Linked DNA regions of Homo sapiens. The protein of the gene in region 1 interacts with the protein of each later gene in a pairwise test. Each region holds a gene or a part of one and is shown on either strand. Other genes may lie near its edges.

What was found. Proteins that work in one complex are often made in the same cells at the same time.
Region 2: the proteins of KIF17 (region 1) and MAP3K10 interact in a two-hybrid assay, tested with the Homo sapiens proteins (one study listed by BioGRID).

Annotation. Positions count from the first base shown.
Region 1 is NC_000001.11:20,666,008-20,673,007, reverse strand, and holds part of KIF17 (kinesin-like protein KIF17), read left to right. Parts: intron 1-811; coding exon 812-1,070; intron 1,071-2,516; coding exon of another isoform or gene 2,517-2,519; coding exon 2,520-2,587; intron 2,588-6,676; coding exon 6,677-6,794; intron 6,795-7,000. UniProt on the Homo sapiens protein: Dendrite-specific motor protein which, in association with the Apba1-containing complex (LIN-10-LIN-2-LIN-7 complex), transports vesicles containing N-methyl-D-aspartate (NMDA) receptor subunit NR2B along microtubules.
Region 2 is NC_000019.10:40,201,423-40,208,453, reverse strand, and holds part of MAP3K10 (mitogen-activated protein kinase kinase kinase 10), read right to left. Parts: intron 3,970-7,031; coding exon 3,821-3,969; coding exon of another isoform or gene 3,797-3,820; intron 3,334-3,796; coding exon 3,158-3,333; intron 2,544-3,157; coding exon 2,297-2,543; intron 1-2,296. UniProt on the Homo sapiens protein: Activates the JUN N-terminal pathway.

The DNA of each region.
Region 1 (7,000 bases):
AGTGATCCGCCCGCTTCGGCCTTCCAAAGTGCTGGGATTACAGGTGTGAGCCACCACGCCCTGCCTCAAACATCCTTCTTTACTAATCAGACTGTACCTGCTCTTTGAGGAAACAGACTGTGCACCAGGTAGTCTTGGGGCTCAGGGAGAGGGTGGTTATGGCTGGGGCTGGCAGTCACCTGTGCTCAGGAGGGACCGGGGGACCGGTCTGGCAGACTTGAGCAGGAGACCAAAAGAATCTGGAACCCTTGATCAGATCAAGGTGGGTCTTACTCTTAGGTCCATTGTTTAGGTCCAGTGTTTGTCACACCGTCACACAGGGCTGTGGCAGTGGGAGAGTGAGGATTGTCAAGTCGGAGAGTTTGTGCCTGTTGTCCTCCTTAGAGATGTCACTTGTGCAATTCTCTGATATCCTTTAGAACGGTGGTGTTGGATGTGGGGACTTCTCAAAGGCTCCTGAATAAAATGTACAATGGGAGATAGTGACTGAGGGGCTGGCTGTTGGGATTGCTGATCAACTTTTCCCCTACATTTTGCAGGGCTGGGGGGACACATTAGGTGCTCATTTAAATGCTGGGTGGAGAGACAGCAGGGTGATTGGATAGACGGAAGGATCAGTGGGTGTGAGAGGAGGTGGATGGATGGATGGAGGGAAGGATGGCTGGATGGATGGTGGGGATGAGAATGGATGGCTGATCAGGCCAATGAACAGACGATGCGTGGCTGCTGGCAGGACAGTGAGTGGACAGGGTGGTTAGATGGAAGGGGAGGTATCTTTCCCTGCTCACTGCTTGTCATCCTTTGCTTTCAGCTTCGGGCAGCAGAGGTGGAGATCAAAGATCTGCAGTCCGAGTTTCAGCTGGAGAAGATCGATTACTTGGCCACCATCCGCCGGCAGGAGCGTGACTCCATGCTCTTGCAGCAGCTCCTGGAGCAGGTGCAGCCCCTGATTCGCAGGGACTGTAACTACAGCAACCTGGAGAAGATTCTGCGTGAGTCCTGCTGGGACGAAGATAACGGCTTCTGGAAGATCCCACATCCCGTCATCACAAAAACCAGCCTCCCAGTAGGTCAGGAGCTTGGCTGGCCCTTGCCCTCCCCTCCCTCCTTCACGGCTTACCATCCTGCAGACTGGCAGGGAGTGTGGGCCTCTCCTTGCAGGCTGTGGGTGTAGAAGACACGTGACCCTGGGTACCTGATGCGTCAGGACTCTGAGAAAGTGGTGTGTTCTGGAGGCAGACAGATGTGGGTTGGAATTCTGGCAGCACCGTTCCCTGTGTGCCCTTTTTGGGACTCGGTGTCTTCATCTGTGAAATGGGGATGAATAACAGCACCTTTCTTAAAGTTGCTGTAAGGTTTGAAATGTGTTAATAGGCCAGGTATGGTGGCTCACGCCTGTAATCCCAGCACTTTGGGAGGCTAAGGCTGGCAGATTGCTTGAGTCCAGGAGTTCGAGACCAGCCTGGCCAACATGGTGAAACCCTGTCTCTAAAAAAAAAAAATAGAAAAATTAGCCAGGCATGGCAGCATGTACCTGTAGTCCCAGCTACTATGGGGGCTGAGGCGAGAGGATCGCTTGAGCCTGGGAAGTCAAGGCTGCAGTGAGCCAAGATCGTGCCACTGCACTCCAGCCTGGGTAACAAAGTGCGACCCTGTCTCAAAACAAACCCCGAAAAAACAAAAACCAGAAATGTGTTAATACACAGAAAACCCTTACAGCAGTGCCTGGCACATAGTGATGCTCGCTGCATGTCATTGTTATCCTAATCAGCATTGTCACTGGTTCATCCTTACGACAGCCCTGAGAAGACAGGTTTTCTACCCATTTCACATAGGAGGACACAATCTCAGAGGGTCCAAAGTCACAGTCACAGCAGTGAGTGGGAGGACCATGGATCAAAACCCACAGTTCAGAGTTTCAGGCCTGGTTCCACTTCCGCTCTTGCTGCTGACCTCCCGTATGGCCTTCCGAAGATCACTGTCCCTCTCTGGGCTTCTTTACAAAGAAGGGGTTGGATCAGATGACCTTGAAAGCCTCCTCACCTCTGATGAGTCTCAGAGTAAAGCCAGACATGCTGTGGCTCTTTCTCCAGCCGTGGACCTGACTCTGCCCATTTGGGGAGCCCGCAGTGCCCCCCAGGAGTCCTCCCTCTTGCTCAGCGTGTTCATCCAGGTCCAACATCTCTGATGTTTATTGACACCATCCCTGCTGAGACCCCAGCCCGCCTCCATTTCCCACATGCTCTGGGATGCAGCAGCCTTCCTGTCTGTCCCCACCCTCGCCTGCTGTCTTGCCTGGAAGCCCCTTGGCTGCTGTCTTGCCTGCAAGCAGATGAGGGTCTTCTCTGGTGCCTGAGCCCCTCCTGCTGTCTGTTTCTTAAAATTATCCCTTGGCTTGGGCTGGGAAGTGTCCTCCCCTGTTTAAGCCTGAGCCAGGCCTGACCCCCACCTCCACCTGTGCCCTCCTCTAGGCCTTGCACCAGGCAGCAGTGACTTCAGCTTTTGTTTTCTCATAGCAGTTTCAACTGGGCCACAGAACAAACCAGCCCGCAAAACCTCTGCAGCAGACAATGGCGAGCCGAACATGGTGAGGACCGCGGGAGAGGGAGTGGGGTGTCGGGGGCTGGGAGGGCTTTGCCCCCAGTGCTGTGGGTCAGTGTTACTGTGGAGAGCTGGTTTTCCACTTTCCTCCCGCCTAAGGATTAAAGAAGGGGCCAAGGCTGGATCCTTTTCATGCCCCTCCATTGGCACCTAGACCCTCAACCCCCTCTGGCCCTCATTCAAAGGTACTCACAGTCATAAATACCAAGGGAAAGTAGATGGTTCGGTGGCCCATCTTGCCGGTGAAGGACAGAGACTTCAGCCTCAAACTCAGAGGACAAGCAGCACATTCTGGTTTCCTGCTGGTAATCCTCAGACCAAGAGGGTCCTCACAGGGTTCATGAAGCAGTAATTGGGATTCCTAAGTCACTTTATTTTCCCGTCTCTCATATTCTGTCTTTTTTTTTTTTTTTCTTTTTCTAAGCTCAGTGGCAAGACCTATCTCCTATATTTTATAGTGCAACAGAAATGCATGTTCTTAAAGCATGGGTGGTGGTGGTTGTTTTTTTTTTTTTTTTTTTTTTTTTTTTTTTTTTTTTTTTGAGATGGAGTCTCGCTCTGTCACCAGGCCGGAGTGCAGTGGTGCGATCTTGGCTCACTGCAACCTCTGCCTCCCAGGTTCAAGCAATTCTCCTGCCTTGGCCTCAGCTGGGACTACAGGCGCGCACCACCATGCCCAGCTAATTTTTGTATTTTTAGTAGAGACAGAGTTTCACCGGGTTGGCCAGGATGGTCTCGATCTCTTGACCTTGTGATCCTCCTGCCTCAGCCTCCCAGAGTGCTGGGATTTCAGGCATGAGCCACCACGCCCGGCCTCTATTTTATTTTATTTTATTTTATTTATTATTATTATTATTATTATTATTATTTCGAGACAGAGTCTCGCTCTGTCGCCCATGCTAGAGTGCAGTGGTGCGATCTCGGCTCACTGAAAGCTCTGCCTCCCAGGTTCAGCCATTCTCCGGCCTCAGCCTCCCAAGTAGCTGGGACTACAGGCACCCGCCACCAAGCCCGGCTAATTTTTTGTATTTTTAGTAGAGACGGGGTTTCACTGTGTTAGCCAGGATGGTCTCGATCTCCTGACCTCGTGATCTGCCCGCTTCAGCCTTCCAAAGTGCTGGGATTATAGGCGTGAGCCACTGTGCCCAGCTAAGCGGGGTGTTTTCAACGAAACTCTTCCAGTTTTTTAAGTTAGCTGGGAGCTACTGTCCCCAGCAGCCACCAGAGGCCCAGACAGAAGGGCACCAGCGGGAGTCCACCAGTCCCTTGGGGTGGCCTGGTCAGCAGGCACAGCTTCCATGACACAACTCCATGAACAATGATATGAAAGTTGTTATTATTTACAGATCCTCAGGCTAGGCAGGGCCACCAGAGAGGGACCCAAGCAGCTGGACCCCCTCTTGGTGTCCTTGTGTCTGGGCCTCTGGTGGCTGCTGGGGACAATAACTACCAGCTAAGTTAACAGAGAAACTCTAAGAGTTTTGTTCAAAACAAGGGGTCAACAAAATTTTTCTGTAAAGGACCCGATCATAAATATCTTGGGCTTTGTGAACTATGTGGTCTCTGTCACAGCCACTCAACTCTGCCACTGTAGCACAAAAACAGCCACAGGTAATACACAAATGAATGGTGTTCCAATAAAACTTTATTTACAAAAATAGCCTGCAGGCCAGATTTGGTCTGTATGCCATAATTAGCTGATTCTGCCTTAAGCCATTACAAATATTTCAGAAAACCCACATAGAATATACCTTTACAGTTATGATAAGACCACTCCTAGGCTAATGAATTCCAACCAAACATCTCTGGCTGAGCAACTCAGGCTGCAAGGGGCCACTCATGGTGGTCTAGAGCTTGATTGGCAGCTTCATAAAAAAGGGAAAGTTGCTGCCAGGAAAAAAGACATTCTTAATCTGGGACCACAAAGAGGTTATGTCAGAATGCTTTCAGCTCCAAGCGATAGATACCAAAGCAAACAACCATAAGAAAAATAAGGAATTTTTTAGTTCATGTAAGTGGACCAGTTTCAGGCACGGCTGGATCTAGGGGCTGAAACAGTCAGGGTCTGTGTCTGTCTTCACCTCTTTTTTTTTTTTTGAGACGGAGTCTTGCTCTGTTACCCAGGCTGGAGTGCAGTGGTGCAATCTCGGCTCACGGCAAGCTCCGCCTCCCAGGTTCACACCATTCTCCTGCCTCAGCCTCCCAAGTAGCTGGGACTACAGGTGCCTGCCACCATGCCCGGCTAATTTTTTGTATTTTTAGTAGAGACGGGGTTTCACCATGTTAGCCAGGATGGTCTCAATCTCCTGACCTCGTGATCTGCCCACCTTGGCCTCCCAAAGAGCTGGGATTACAGGCATGAGCCACCGCGCCCGGCCACCTCTTTTTTTTTTTTTGAGACAGAGTTTCACTCTTGTTGCCCAGGCTGGAGTGCAGTTGTGCGATCTCAGCTCACCGCAACCTCTGCCTCCCAGGTTCAAGCGATCCTCTTGCCTCAGCCTCCAGAGTAGCTGGGATTACAGGCATGCACCACGACGTCCAGCTAATTTTTTTGCATTTTTAGTAGAGACAGGGTTTCTCCATGTTGGTCAGGCTGGTCTTGAACTCCTGGCCTCAGGTGATCCGCCTGCCTTGGCCTCCCAAAGTGCTGGGATTACAGGCGTGAGCCACTGCTCCTGGCCTATGTCTTCACCTCTTGTTCCTGCTTCCCTTGGTATGCTAACTGAAGGCTTTCTCCACATGGCCGGAAGGATGGCTGCTGGCCATTGGTGATCCAAAAGGAAGAGAGGCCTGGTCTGTTAAAGCAACTGTCCCCAGTCTTTTTGGCACCAGGGACCAGTTTCGTGGAAGACAATTTTTCCACAGGTCAGGACGGGGTGGGGGGTCTGATAGTTTCGGGATGATTCAAGTGCATTACATTTAATGTGGACTTCATTTCTATTAGTATTACATTGTAATATATAATGAAATAATTATATAACTCACCATCATGTAGAATCAGTGGGAGCCGTGAGCATGTTTTCCTGCAACTAGACGGTCCCATGTGGGGGTAATGGGAGACAGTGACAGATCTTCAGGCATTAGATTCTCATAAGAACCACAACCTGGATCCCTCACACGTGCAGTTCACAATAGGGTTTGCCCTCCTATGAGAATCTAATGCCACCACTGATCTGACAAGAGGTGCAGCTCAGGCAATAATTCAAGTGATGGGGAGCAGCTGCAAATACAGATGAAGCTTCACTTGCTCACCTGCCGCTCACTTCCTGCTGTGCAGCCCAGTTCCTAACAGGCCAGGGACTGGTACCAGTCCATGGCCTGGGGGTTGGAAACCCTTGTCTTAAAGCATCCTGAAACTAGAGCTTGGGGAGAGATTCTGATTGGCTCTGCCTGGGTCATGTGTCTACTCTTGAACCAATTACTGTGTTTAGGAGGATGTGGTTCTGTGATTGGTGCAGTCTGGGTCACATGTCCAGCTGTGTAACAACAGGATGGGAGTCAGATGTAGTATAGGGCACTATGAATGCTCACCCCACTGGGATGTCAAGTGGAAGAAGGACAATTCCCTGAAAAGGGAGATTTAGATTGAAGAAAACAAGTCCATAATAGTGGGGAAAAATAATAGCTCTTGGTGATAAGAAGGTTTGGATTCCAGTTCTAATGATCACAAATGTACCTGTGAGCTGAGGATAGCAACGCATTGCCTATTCTATGAACATGTCGTGATAGATTTGGGGCTTGTGTATCAACCCGGCCCCCCTGTTGGAGCTGGCAGGACACCCTGTTTTGAGCTTTGTAGGACAGAATAAGGCACTTCCCATCTCAAGGAAGGGGAGGCCGGGTGCAGGCTTGGCTGGAGACTGACTTCCTGGCCCCGAGCTGCCTGGGATCCCACCCCCGAGTCCAGGATCTACGGTGTAGGGTACACCAGAGTGGGCAGTGCCTGCTCCAGCCCTGTGACAACTTCGGGGAAGCTCGGGGCGGCCCCCACTGCCCCAGGATACCAGAGGCTGTGGAGCCCTGTGCCAGGGGCACAAACAAGGGGACGTGACCACGGGCATCTGCATCTCGGCAGGAGGACGACCGCTACAGGCTCATGCTCAGTCGGAGCAACAGTGAAAACATTGCCAGCAACTACTTCCGATCTAAGCGGGCCAGCCAGATCCTCAGCACAGACGCCAGGAAGAGCCTCAGTGAGTGTCCCTCCCCTGTCCCCACCCTCTCCACACAACTGGGAGAGGCGTGAAGGGGATAGTTTTGAAGTCAGACAGGCCTGGGTTCAAAAACTCCTTTCCCTCTCGGAGCCTCAGTTTCCTTAGCTACAAAATGAGGGGGGTAACACCAACTTCTTAGGATTAGGTGATACGAGGTGAGGAAACGGCCCAGCCCGGGCGCTGGT
Region 2 (7,031 bases), on another chromosome or scaffold:
GAGGCCGAGGCAGGCGGATCACGAGGTCAGGAGATTGAGACCATCCTGGCTAACACGGTGAAACCCTGTCTCTACTAAAAATACAAAAAAAAAAAAAAAAAAAAAAAAGAAAGAAAGAGCCAGGCGTGGTGGCGGGTGCCTGTAGTCCCAGCTATTCAGGAGGCTGAGGCAGGAGAATGGCATGAACCTGGGAGGCAGAGCTTGCAGTGAGCCGAGATCATGCCACTGCACTCCAGCCTGGGTGACAGAGCGAGGCTCCATCTCAAAAAAAACAAAAACAAAAACAAAAAAACAAACAACAAAAAACAGGTACTCCATTTGGTTATTGGAAACATTTAAGCATGTTTGGAGCAACTTGGGTATGTATATGTACTTTTTCAACTCTAACTTTTATGAAATCTAAATACAGATCCAATATTTTTGATGGGTCAGGTACAGTAGCTCACACCTGTAATCCCAGCACTTTGGGAGGCCAAAGTGGGAGCGCTGCCTGAGCGCAGGAGTTCAAGACCACCCTGGGCAATATAGCAAGACCCCATCTCAGAAAAAAAAAAATTTTTAATGAAAATTTACTGTCCAAATTTAGATGTGCCATAAATATAAAATACATCTGGATTTCAAAGATTTAGTGTGAAAAAAGAAGGTAAAATATCTCACAATTATTTTGTATTGATTGCATGGATATATTGGGCTAAATTAAAAAATATATATATTTTTTGAGATGGAGTTTTGCTCTTGTCGCCCAGGCTGGAGTACAATGGCGCGATCTCGGCTCACTGCAACCTCTGCCTCCCAGGTTCAAGCGATTCTCCTGCCTCAGCCTCCTGAGTAGCTGGGATTACAGGCATGCGCCACCACGCCCGGCTAATTTTGTAGTTTTAGTAGAGATGGGGTTTCTCCATGTTGGTCAGGCTGGTCTCAAACTCCTGACCTCAGGTGATCTGCCCGTCTTAGCCCCAAAAAGTGCTGGGATTACAGACGTGAGCCACCCCACCTGGCCTAATAAAAAATATTAAAATTGACATCTCTTATTTCTTTTTGCTTTTATGTGTAGCTTACTAGAAAATTTAAAATTATACACGTGGCTTGTATTATATTTCCACTGGCCACTGCTGCTTAAGGCACTGCTTTCTGGCTTGTAACATCACAGAAAGAGACAAGTAGACACTACGTGCCTCCCTCCTGAATGCATTACCTGGGAAGCAGTGTGGGGAAAAAAAAAATCAAACCTGAATCTGAATCTGATTAAGTCTTGAGATCCAACTATTAGGTTGATCCATGTGAAACTTCTGTTTTTGTAGGTAAAAAAATGGTCAAATATCAGCATATATATGTATATCTTAATTATATATTTTGTGACAGAGTCTCACTCTGTCACCCAGGCTGGAGTGCAGTGGCACAATCTCGGCTCACTGCAACCTCTGCTTTCCGGGTTCAAGCGATGCTTGTGCCTCAGCCTCCCAAGTAACTGAGATTACAGGCGTGTGCACCACCACACCCAGCTAATTTTGTAGTTTTAGTAGAGGCGGGATTTCACCATGTTCTAGAGCCAGGCTGCTCTAGAACTCCTAGCCTCAAGTGATCTACGCACTTTGGCCTCCCAAAATGCTGGGATTACAGGCGTGAGCCACTGCACCTGGCCAGATTAAAAGATATTTTTAAAGAGAGATAACATGAAAAAGAAAGTTCAGAAGTGACTGTCCTAAGTGTCAAGACAGATGTTCCTCTCAGGGGATGGTGTGAGGTTGTCTGGAGGGGCAGGTAGAAAGCACTTGGGATGGCTGTGAGGTTCTCTCTGCTTTCATGGGGGTGACTAGAGTAACTCATTTGGCTGTACAGGTTTTTGGTCATTTTCTTTTTTTCTTCTTCTTCCCTTTAGAGATAGGGTCTTGCTCTGCTGCCCAGACTGGAGTGCAGTGGTGCAATTACAGCTCACTGCAGCCTCGAACTCCTGGACTCAAGTGATCCTCCCACCTCAGCCTCCCCACTAGCTTGGACTATAAGTGCATGCCAACGTGGCCAGCTAATTAAAAAAAATTTTTTTTTTTTTTGGTAAATATGGGGTCTATGTTGCCCAGGCTGGTCTCAAACTTCTGGCCTCAAGTGATCCTCCCACCTTGGCCTCCTGAGTAGGCTGGGACTACAAGTGCTCGCCACTGCACTGGGCTGATCACTGACTATGTGCGATATATTTAGCAATAAAAACAAGTTGAAAAAGAAAAGGAAGAGATAAATCCTAGGTCGGGGCTGCTCCCAGCAGCCTCTTGGGGGGCGCTCTGGGGACACGGGTGGGTACCAGAGGGCAGGCTGATGTGGCTGCCGCCTTCCCGCAGCTTGAGCAGGCGGCTGCGCTTGAAGTTGCCCTTGCGCTTGCGGACCCGGGGCTTCTCCTGGCTCAGCTGGCACATGAGCAGGTGCAGCTCCCGTTCCACGATGTCCATCTCACGTTCTGCCAGCTCCTGCTCCCGCCGCCGCAGCTGCTCCTCCTGGAAGCGCTGCTCCTGTGCCGCCCGCAGCAGCTCCTCCTCACGGCTCCGAAGCTCCTGGGAAGGAGAGGCGGTGGCTGGGGGGAGGGGCTTAGCTGCTCTGCTTCCTGGGGAGGGACCCAGGGCTGCTGCGTCTGGTTGGTGCCTCACACAAGGGTACCTTGCTGTGGGGTACACTGGTTTCACCACCCGACTCATGCTTTGCTAGCCAAGCTGGGTGCCAGGGCAGGGAACTGTGTTAGCTCAAAGAAAGGGGTGCTTTTTCTTTCTTTTTCTTTCTTAACTCTTCAATTTAGAAAACTTCAAACATCCACAAAAGCAGAGAACAGTGCACCCCCCTGTACCCATCATCCAATTTCAACAATTACCTATGCTTTGCGAATCTTGTATCCCCGTCCTTCTCTCCTCTTGCCCTCTCTTCGTTTCTGCTGTAGTATTTTAAAGCCAACCCCAGACATCATGCAGTGTCACCTGTAAGTACTTCAGTACAGGGTGCCTTTTTCTTATTAATCCACCAACAGGAGGCTGTCTTTTCTTAATATGCAAAAAAGGCTCCCTTGACCCTGCATGGACCCAAAGGCTGGGGTTCAGGGGAGGAGTCTCTGAGCAGCCCAAGGCATCAGAACTCAGGGGTCTTGCTCCATCTTTCCCACCTTGCCCCCTGCCTTCACCTTCTCCTTGGTCCGAAGGTCATCAAACATGTGCTGAATCTCCAGCTTCCAGTCTTCCTGCAGCGAGTGGAAGGACTCCAGTGGCATCTGGAACAGGGCTGACTGTTCGATGACTTCAAGCCGCTTCAAGATGCTACCGAAATCTGGCCGCCCGTGGGGGTCTGGGTCCCAGCATTCTGGGGTGGGAGGAGGAAGGACAGTGGTGGGGCATGGAGGTGTCAGTGGTCATGCTCTGGGGACTCAGCCTGCTCAGAGGAAGGCAGAATTTCTGGGGATGGCAGACAAACAGCTGCTATGGAGCTGAGGGGAAGGGATTCAAAGCCAAGCTCCTGGCCAATTCCACTCAGTGAAACGCTGGGAGAGAAACCCTGGGACCTGCACCCCGAGGAGGGGCTGGTAGTGGAATCAGGATCAAGGTGGAATCCCAGGGCCAAGGAATCCTAACAGGTTGTCCTGAGAGCTCTGGGCCTGGCCCAAACAAGGGCTGGGATGTGGGGGATGGAGCCAACCATGGGGAGGCTGTTTAGAGTCCAGTGGGTTCCAGCCCCTTCTTCCTCACTCCTGGGCCCACTGGTATGGATAGGTGTGAAGGGGAAAGGTCTGGGCCCACAGGTCCCTGCCACTCCAAGCTGAGCCTACCCTCGTCACGGGGCCCCGGCTCACCCTCCAGGAGGCGGGCAAAGGGCTCGGGGCACGTGGAGGGAATGGGCAGCGTCAGCTTATTCATAGCCACGCCATACGCCACGGCCAAGGCGTCGATCTCACGGTAGGGGACCTCCCCCGTCAGCAGCTCCCACAGCAGCACCCCGAAGCTGCAGGCAGGGGAGAGGGAGGGGTGATGTCGCAGCCCACCCCAATCCTCACCTATACCCAGCCCTGCCCTTGGTCCCATGCAGGGCTGCCCTCACCCCAACAGCCACCCCCGGCCAATGAGGTCACAAGAACTTGCTTTGACCTCCATGGCCTTGTTCTCCAATAGATGGGGTGGGTTTGGCTCTCTGATGTCTCTCCTTTGCTCGGCCTGTCTTCCCTCTCCCCTGCCTGAAAATCTTCAGGTCCCGTGTTCCTACTGGCCAAATCCATCTTTCTTATTTTTATTTTTGTAGAGATGGAGGTCTCACTATGTTGCCCAGGCTGGTCTCAAACTCCTGGGCTCAAGTGATCCTCCTGCCTGGGCTTCCCAAAGTGCTGGGATTACAGGCATGAGCCACTGCATCCCACCTAAATCCATCCTTCTTGGCCCTGGCCTTTGATGACCCCTGCAGCCTCACTTCCAAACACTCTCAGCCCATTCTAACCCCAACTTCATCTTGCAGCCACACTGAATACTGAGCAGGCCCTGTGCTTTCTAACCTCTGGCCTTCACACATGCTGTTCCCTTTGTGGAGAACACTCTTCCCTTGTGTAACTATTTGTCCCTCAAGTCTCAACACAGGTTGCCCCCTCTGTCAGGAAGCCTTCCTTGATTCCACAGCCTCCAAAGCTAGGTTAGAGGCCCCTCCTCTACGTTTCCCCAAAACACTCAGCACTTACCTCTAAAAACCAGTTAACATTATTTAACATTTATAAAGCACTTACTGCAGGCCAGGCACTGTGCTAGGCACTCGGTAATCCTCACAACAGCCCTGTAAGGCAGAAGGATTTGGTATGACCCCTGCTTTAGCTGATGAGCAGGTACACGCTCAGAGAGGTAAGGGGCTTGCCCAAGGTCACACAGCTAGTGAGTGGTGGAGCCACACTTGGACTCAGGTCTGCCTGCTGCCCACGACAGTGCTCTCAGTGGCTCCATGGTACCAGAGCGTGCGTCACTGTGCTGTGGTCCCTGCAAGGCTATCTTCCTCTGCAAACTCTACATCCTCCCAGATCCTGATGGCCATTCTGTGTGGTGTTTATCCTGGAGTAGATCCCTGGTCTCCCCACTATCCACTCATGCATTCATTCAACATATCCTTTTTTTTTTTTGAGACAAAGTCTCTGTCACCCAGGCTGGAGTGCAGTGGCATGATCTCGGCTCCCTGCAACCTCCGCCTCTTGGGTTCAAGTGATTCTTGTGCCTCAGCCTCCCAAGTAGCTGGGATTACAGATGTGCACCACCATCCCAGCTAATTTGTGTATTTTTAGTAGAGATGGGGTTTCACCATGTTGGCCAGGCTGGTCTCCAACTCCTGACCTCAGGTTCCGCCTGCCTCAGCCTCCCAAAGTGCTGGGATTACAGGCATGAGCCACTGCGCCCGGCCCATTCAACGTATACTTATTAAGTGCCTACTGTGTGCCAAGCACCATTTTAGACATTGGGAAGAGATAGACACAATCACTGCCCCCATATGCAGCTGACAGCCTCCCATTCTTCAGTGACAGTGCTGGTGAATTGAGCTGGCCACATGCTGCCTGCATGAATTTTCCATTCTCCTTTGCAGCTAAGCATGCCACATGACCACAGTTCTGGTACATGGGATGTAGGAGGGGGTGTAGTAGGCAACTAGCTTCCAGGAAGTATCCTCAAAAAGAAGGGGTGCCCGGCCGGGAAAGAGTGTGAGGTGGGATGATGGCTTGAGCCCAAGAGTTCAAGGCTGCAGTGAGCTATGACTATACCACCACATTCTAGCCTGCGTGGGAGAGTGAGAGCCTGTCTTTTAAAAATTTTTTTAAATGAAAAATAAATTTATAGTGGGTTAATTTTATATTATTTATATCTTAAATAAGATGAAATCTGTCCCCAAACACCCTATCCTGTAAAGACTATTGTTCAAAGAAGGAACAGAATGGACCCCAAAATAAGAGGTGAAAATCCCCACATACACTCTAGTCATGCCAAGGGCAGCCTGACAGGCAAGGCTTCTTGCTTCCTGTCTCAACTTATCCCTGTCCTGCGAAGCCGCGGCAGGACACATCTGCAGCTCAGCACAGCAGACAGGCACAGGAGCGCAGGAACAAAAACAACATGGGTAAGAAAATGAGGCCGGGCGCGGTGGCTCACGCCTGTAATCCCAGCACTTTGGGAGGCCGAGGCGGGCGGATCACAAGGTCAGGAGATTGAGACCATCCTGGCTAGCACGGTGAAACCCCGTCTCTACTAAAAATACAAAAAATTAGTCAGGCGTGGTGGCGGGCGCCTGTAGTCCCAGCTACTCGGGAGGCTGAGGCAGGAGAATGGCGTGAACCCAGGAGGCGGAGCTTGCAGTGAGCTGAGATCGTGCCACTGAACTCCAGCCTGGAAGACAGAGTGAGACTACGTCTCAAAAAATAAAAAGAAGGGGTGCCATTTTCCTTTTTTCCCCTTCTTGTGGTTGGAATGTAGACATAAAACCTGGAGCCTGGGGGGTGGGGGACAAGGGGAGGGAGAGCATTAGGCAAATACCTGACACACGCGGGGCTTCAAACCTAGATGATGGGTTGATGGGTGCAGCAAACTACCATGGCACATGTATACCTATGTAACAAACCCTGCACGTTCTGCACATGTATCCCAGAACTTAAAATTAAAAAAAAAAAAAAAAAAAAAGCTGGCGTGTGGAGCTAGGCACAGTGGCTCACGCCTGTAATGTCAGCACTTTGGGAGGCCAAGACAAGAGGACCTCTTGAGCCCAAGAGATCGAGACCAGCGTAGGAAACAAAGTGAGACCTCGTCTCTACAAAAAATTAGCCTGGTGTGGTGGCATGCCTGTAGTCCCAGCTACTAGAGAGGCTGAGGTGGGAGGATCACTTGAGCCCAGGAGGTTGAGGCTGCAATGATTTGTGACGGCATCACTGCACTCCAGCCTGGGTGACAGAGCAAGACCCTGTTAAAAAAAAAAAAAAAAAAAAGGCTGGGTGCGGTGGCTGACGCCTGTAATCCCAGCACTTTAGGAGGCCCAGGTGGGCAGATCATGAGGTC